Linked DNA regions of Homo sapiens. The protein of the gene in region 2 purifies or fractionates together with the protein of the main gene of each other region. This does not show direct contact. Each region holds a gene or a part of one and is shown on either strand. Other genes may lie near its edges.

Evidence for each region.
Region 1: the proteins of TRIM3 (region 2) and KPNA4 purify together in Homo sapiens (affinity purification with western blotting; 2 studies listed by BioGRID, with this or other methods). This does not show direct contact.

Annotation. Positions count from the first base shown.
Region 1 is NC_000003.12:160,494,507-160,497,039, reverse strand, and holds the end of KPNA4 (importin subunit alpha-3), read left to right. Parts: 3' UTR 1-2,033; downstream 2,034-2,533. UniProt on the Homo sapiens protein: Functions in nuclear protein import as an adapter protein for nuclear receptor KPNB1. Binds specifically and directly to substrates containing either a simple or bipartite NLS motif.
Region 2 is NC_000011.10:6,467,265-6,471,114, reverse strand, and holds part of TRIM3 (tripartite motif-containing protein 3), read left to right. Parts: intron 1-3,591; exon of another isoform or gene 3,592-3,609; intron 3,610-3,850.

The sequences.
Region 1 (2,533 bases), on a different chromosome or scaffold from region 2:
ATTGATAAAAAACTAAGCACACCAATCATGTATAAGAAAAGTAGATTTAACATTTTTTTCCCTAAACACTTAACCCAGAAGTTAACAATAATCTTGAAAATTCCTTTTAAATCCAGGCCCTTTAGGTGATGGCAGTTTGACTCAGGATGTCCAAGTCCAGTGTATTTTCAATAAAATTGACTTGACAGCTACTGCTCTGGGTGTAAGAGCAGTTGACTGTGAGGAAAAGTAAATGGTTCTACAGATTCTTTATGATCTACCTCCCACCAGAGGACTGCAGTACTCCCTTGTTATTTATATTTTCTGCCCCAATTTTTGCCTTCTCCACAAATTTTATACCTTTTGTAGCTGCCTACTCCAGATTACTTCACCTTTCCAGACTATCAGTTCTTCCACTTTTATTCTTCATAAAGAAAATTCCAATAACCTGTTTCACTTAGGTTTTTCTATTACTCTTCAAGCATGAATCCTAATTTCCCTGACTATATCTTACCTCTGATCTCCATAACTGATGGATTCCTATCCTAGACTATGTTACTCTAATATTACCCAAGATTTTCTCCAGCCTGTTTTTACTCTTACTTTGAAACAGCTGTTTAAAATGACTCGTAATCTGCTTAAATCTACATGCTTTTTGTGGTTCTCAATCCAGTTACCTACCTTCCAGATAATTCCCTCACTGTCCTGTCCTCTCCATTCCTCTGATGTTTAAGCCCTGTGAGCCACCTTTCCCCCATCCTTTGTGCATAGTTACCATTTTACTCTTTCTTGTTGCCCAGGCAGGAATGCAGTGGTGCCATCTTGGCTCACTGCAACCTCCACCTCCTAGGTTCAAGCGATTCTCCTGCCTCAGCCTCCTGAGTAGCTGGGACCACAAGCGTGCACCACCACGCCCGGCTAATTTTTGTATTTTTAGTAGAGATGGGGTTTCACCACGTTGGCCAGGCTGGTCTCGAACTCCTGACCTCAGATGATCCACCCTCCTTGGCCTCCCAAAGTGCTGGGATTGCAGGCGTGAGCCACCGCCTGGCCACCATTTTACTCTTTTTAGGTACAGTAATCTAATATCCAAAGTCTTGGACTCAGCTAAAGAGGGTATTTACCTTAAAAAAAAAAAAAAAAAGACTCCATCTTTTGATTCATAATTGTGGTGGGGGCGGGGAATCAAGACAACCTTAGTCACTTTGGTATTACCATAATTCTTGTCTTTTCAGGGTTGTCCTGTTCAGCTGCATAAAACATCATGTATTCTAGGTATTTCCTACCTTCACTTACATTTTTACTTGCCGATGTGCTGCCTTCATAAATGGGTATATTCCGCCACACATCTAGTAAGCCCCCAATGCAGTACACAATGTGTATCACTGATAAAACTCGCACTTCTGCCATGTCAGTATTATATTCAGTTGAGTGGTCTTTAGCATAGTGGCAGTCCTAGTCATCCTAACCTTTTAGTTAAGGTAAAATTACATATGTTTATAGAACTCATATAGACAAGCTAGTTTTTAAAATCTTCCTTTTAACCAGTTTAGGATGATCTAGGATAGCTAAGTTACCTACATGGTGACTGTTCGGTCTAATTCAGAAACAGAAGTACTAAAAGAATACTAAAAAGTTTTTACCCATTATCTCTATCCCTGTTTTCTTTTTGCAATTCTCAGCTGCAGGGAGCAAGAAAATACACAGCAGATAGGAAATGTTTGTTTGCATCCTGGCTTTCTCAACCGCACTTTACGTCCTTGAATATTCTAGATATTTACTCCTTCAAGAAGTCAGGAGTATATCCAGGCCTACCTATCATCCTTGCCATCCCCATTAACCCTCATTTTTCAGTATGTGTTTTACATTTATGGTTATTTTTCAGTCTATAGTATCTGTTCACTCATTGCTCTATCACATCTGAGTTTCTCCGTCTTTCTTTCCACTAGATTGTAAGCTCCTTAAGGGCAAGGTCGGCATATAAGCAAAGTTCTGTAAACACCGTGAAGGTACCATGAGTTCTATGGGTACTCAATAAATGCTTGTGATAATGATGCAATTTCTCAGATGAACTGATTGTAGTGACTACCTCTAAAAGCCTTCAATCTACAGTTTTTAAATTTGTCTCATTGCATCTGAGTTTTAGAAAGCCTTCGATAGAAAGGGAAGATACTTCATAGCTTGCCAGATGAATGCCCATTTCCTTATTTCCTTTTCCTCACTTTTGATATTTTGCCCAGTGTCTGGTCTGGATATCTGACATCCATAAGGGTATTGAAATGGATCCTTGTGTGGTTTTCAGATACCAGTTATATATATTATGAAGCAGAGGTAACCTAATATTGTCTAACACTATTGATACAGTTTATATTTTGGAAATACTGTATGGATGATTTATTGAAATAACTTATAATAAGATATTTTACAAGGAAATATCCAAACCACAAAGTTAAGTGATTGCTGTTTTGGTCAGTCAGCTATAGTATGAAATTATTAGAATGCTTTGGTTTATTTATGTATGTGAAGTTATTTTATCCCTATGTGCTTCAGTTTC
Region 2 (3,850 bases):
ATCCTTTGCAGATGTCCAGGATCTAGTGGAGTCAGCACTGGCTGTCTTCATTTGTTCACAATCAGCTTCTTGCTTGACTCCCTGCATCTGGCTTCCTGTCCTCCATCCCCTGAAAACCACATGCTCTGAGGTTAATGAAAGCCTCTTTGGGGCTTAAATAATGGGACCTCTGCAGCATTTCACTCCCTTGTTCATGAAGTTCTCTTCTCCCTTGGCATTCATGACATCTGTTTCCTGATTCTCTTGCTTCTCTGGTTGTGCCTTCTCAATCTTCTTTGCAGACTCTGCTTCCTGGGCCTATCTCTTAAATATTGAGGTTCCTTGGGACTTGGTGATAGACCCTCCTTTCTCTCTTTACCCTCTCAGGGTAATGTCATCCACGCCCATGGCTTCAGGAACCATCTCTGCACCAACATCCACATTCATGTCTCCAGGCCAGACCTCTCTCTTAGGCTTCAGCGTATCTTTCCAACTGCCAACTGGACCTCTCCACTTGAATTACATCCCATAGGCACCTCAGATTCATCACATTAAACAGTGAACTCTAGCTGGGTGCTGTGGCTCATGCCTGCAACCCCCACGCTTTGGCAGGCCAAGGCAGGAGGATTAGTTGAGCCCAGGAGTTTGAGGCTACAGTGAGCTATGATCATAACACCACATTCCAGCCTGGACAACAGAGTAAGACCCTGTCTCTTAAAAAACAAAAACAAAACTGAAAAAACCTTAAAAGATAAACACCAAACTTATCACCCTCTCATCCAAACTGCTCTTCTTTGAGAGTTTCCAAAGAATCATCTGTTAATTCCTTCTTCTCCCCTAACTCTTCACATGTAAATACCCAGCCACCAAGTTCAGTTGATATCCCCCTGCAAAATTGATTTATCTTGGCCTGTCTTTGCTATTCTCCTAATCAAGGCAGTTTCTTAATTTTCCGTCCTTGCCCTTTAAACTATTTTCCACATAGCAGCCAAAAATGTACTTTTGTCACTCTATACTTAATAGCCCTCACCACTACCAAAGTTTTCCTTTGCTTTTTGGATAAATCCTTCATCCCCTAGCAGGTAAGCGTAAAGTCTAAACTCCTTAATAAGACCAACAAGGCATTGCATGATATATCTTTTGCCTACCTCTCCATCTTGTTTCTTAGCCCTCCCATCACAGTGTCTGATTCAGCCTCCTGATGCAAAAGGCACCATACTCTCTGTAACTCATCCTCAGCTTGAACGTTACTTTCTTTAGGAGTTACTAAAGTTACTTTCTTTAGGAGAAAGGTTGGCCTCCAACCTCTGGACCCACCCCTGCTCCAGATCTAGGTTAGGTAACCTTTGTACTCCTGGAGCAATTGGTGCTTCCTCATCATGGTCTTCACCACTTTACATTGCAGTAATCTATTTATTAGATTGTGGAATCCATGAAGGCTGAGCTGTGACTATTTGTCTTTGTGTCCCCAGGCCTAGCAGCAGTGTCAAGTGAATGCTGAATGAGGGAGTGAGGTGCCTTGAGAACTAAGCCATAAAGTATGGTGGGAATAACCAATACAGGGATAGCAGAAGGCAGTATGAGAAAGGAGAGTAAAGTCTGGCTCTGAGACCAAGGCCTTATAAGTGTCTGCTGTGATAAACAGTTCACTTGAACCACCACCTATAGGATCTTGGGGGCAAATCTCTAGAGCACAGTGGGATGGAAGAGCTAGGACCCCACGGGAGGAAGAGAATCTCAGATTCAGGCAGGGGTATGGCCTCAGCGGCTGCATGCCCAGTAAGTCTGGGAGGGGAACTGAAGCAGGAAGGGGAGGAGTGGGGGAGGAGCTATTGGTCCTTGGACATAGCCCAATCCCCGCCCCTGTGTGACAGTCTGGGAGAGCCCCTAGGCTTGGAGAGAGGTGGAGCCTGGCATCCAGCTACCCCAGCAGGACCCAGCAGACCACTCCCACTCTTCCTCCCAGCCTTTCCCTTCACCAGACAGAGGCTTCAGCTTGCCTCCCGCCTCCTGGTCCTTCCGCCAACCTTCAATCTGTCCTCCCTCCTGCTATGTTTTCCTGGTATTAAGTCTTCAGACTCCAGAACCCATTACAACTGTAGAGAGAACATCAGGATGCCAGTGTCTACATCAGCAGAGGATACTTTCAGGCATGCCCTTCACACTCTACCCAGGCCCACCCTTACACAAACATAAGGCACAGCAACTCAGCCCTTCTATCCCTCCCCAAATCTAGACTCGCTCCTGCATTCATTCATTCATTCATTCATTCATTCATTCACAGTCTTTAGAAAAAGGCTCATAATGCATCCAACAGCACAGACAATGGTGACCTGGTCCTATTCATTGCCTATTTTGGAGTAATCCAGCTGTTGTTCTGCCACCCTTCATGACCAAATCCCTGCCATGTATTGTCTACATCTGCTGTGTTAACTTCATCTCCCATTTACTCTTCAGTCACTCTGACGTGGCTTCTGCCCCTGCCACCCCACCACAGCCAAATCTAGTGGGCACTCTTCAGTCCGTTTCTTACTTCACCCCTTCTTTTTCTTGCACTGTTCTGTTGATTTCTTTGGTTTCACATTCTTTTGGTTTTCCTACCATTTCTCTGGGTTCTCTTTCTCAGAGTCACCTTTGCTGGCTCCCCTCTCTTGTGCCAGGCCCTTTTCTTATCACTGTCTGCCCTCTGTCCCTAGGTGGGCTCATGTCTTCTCATTGCTGAAAGTGCCATTTATATGCTAGTGATCCCAAATCAATAACCAGTCCAGACTTTTCTCTTGAGCTCCTGTATTCTGTTTCTTACTTGACAGCTCTACCTGGACATCAGAGAGACACATTGTACTTAGCATACATAGAACAGAATGCCCCAAATCAGCTCCACCTCAGCTTTCACTGTCTCTATTCATGGCCCATCACTTGCTAAAATGAGAAAGCTAAGTCATAATTGACATCCCTCTCACACCCAGTTCATCTTGATGTCCTTTGGATTTCTCTTTTATTATTTATTTTATTTTTATAGAGATGGGGTCTCATTATGTTGCCCAGACTGATCTCGAACTCCTGAGCTCAAGTGAACCTCCTTCCTCAGCCTCTCGAAGTGCTGGGATTACAGATGTGAGCCACCTTGCTCGGCCAATGAATATTTCTCAAATCAGTCCAGCTTTTTGCTTGTAGCTCAGATGATACCCTACATTATCTTACCCAAAGAACTTTGGTAGCTTCCTAACTGTTTTCTCTGATTCCACTCTGGCTTCTCTTTGTCTTCAATTCTCACAGCTTGCCAGAGTAGCTTTCTAATTTATTTTCACTTATTTATAAACCACATCATCCCCCCCTCCAACTTAGGATAAAATCACTTTTTTTTTTTGAGACAGAATCTCAACTTTGTCTCATGCCAGGCTAGAGTGCAGTGGCACGATTATGGCTCACTGCAGCCTCGACCTCCTGGGCTCAAGCAATCCTCCCACCTCAGCCTCCCAAGTAGCCTGGACTACAGGTGTGTGCCACCATGCCTAGATGATTTTTAATTTTTTTGTAGATATTGGTCTCATTATGTTGCCCAGGCTGATCTCCAATTCCTGGGCTCAAACGATCTTCCTGCTTTGGCCTCTGAAAGTGCTAGTATTACAGGTATGAGCCACTGCACCCAGCCAAAATCACATTCTTAATGGCGGTTATAAGGTCCTTCATGATCTCATCTCTACCTATCTTCCCAAACTCACCTCTTCCTTTTATTGACTTGGCTCCAACCACACAGTCCTTTCAGGTTCTCCATGAGCCTTCTGCCTAAGAACCTTTATCATGCTGTTTCTTCAGCCTAGAATGATTTCCCTTCCTGACTCCCTGTTGTTTCTCACCCTCACCCATACCA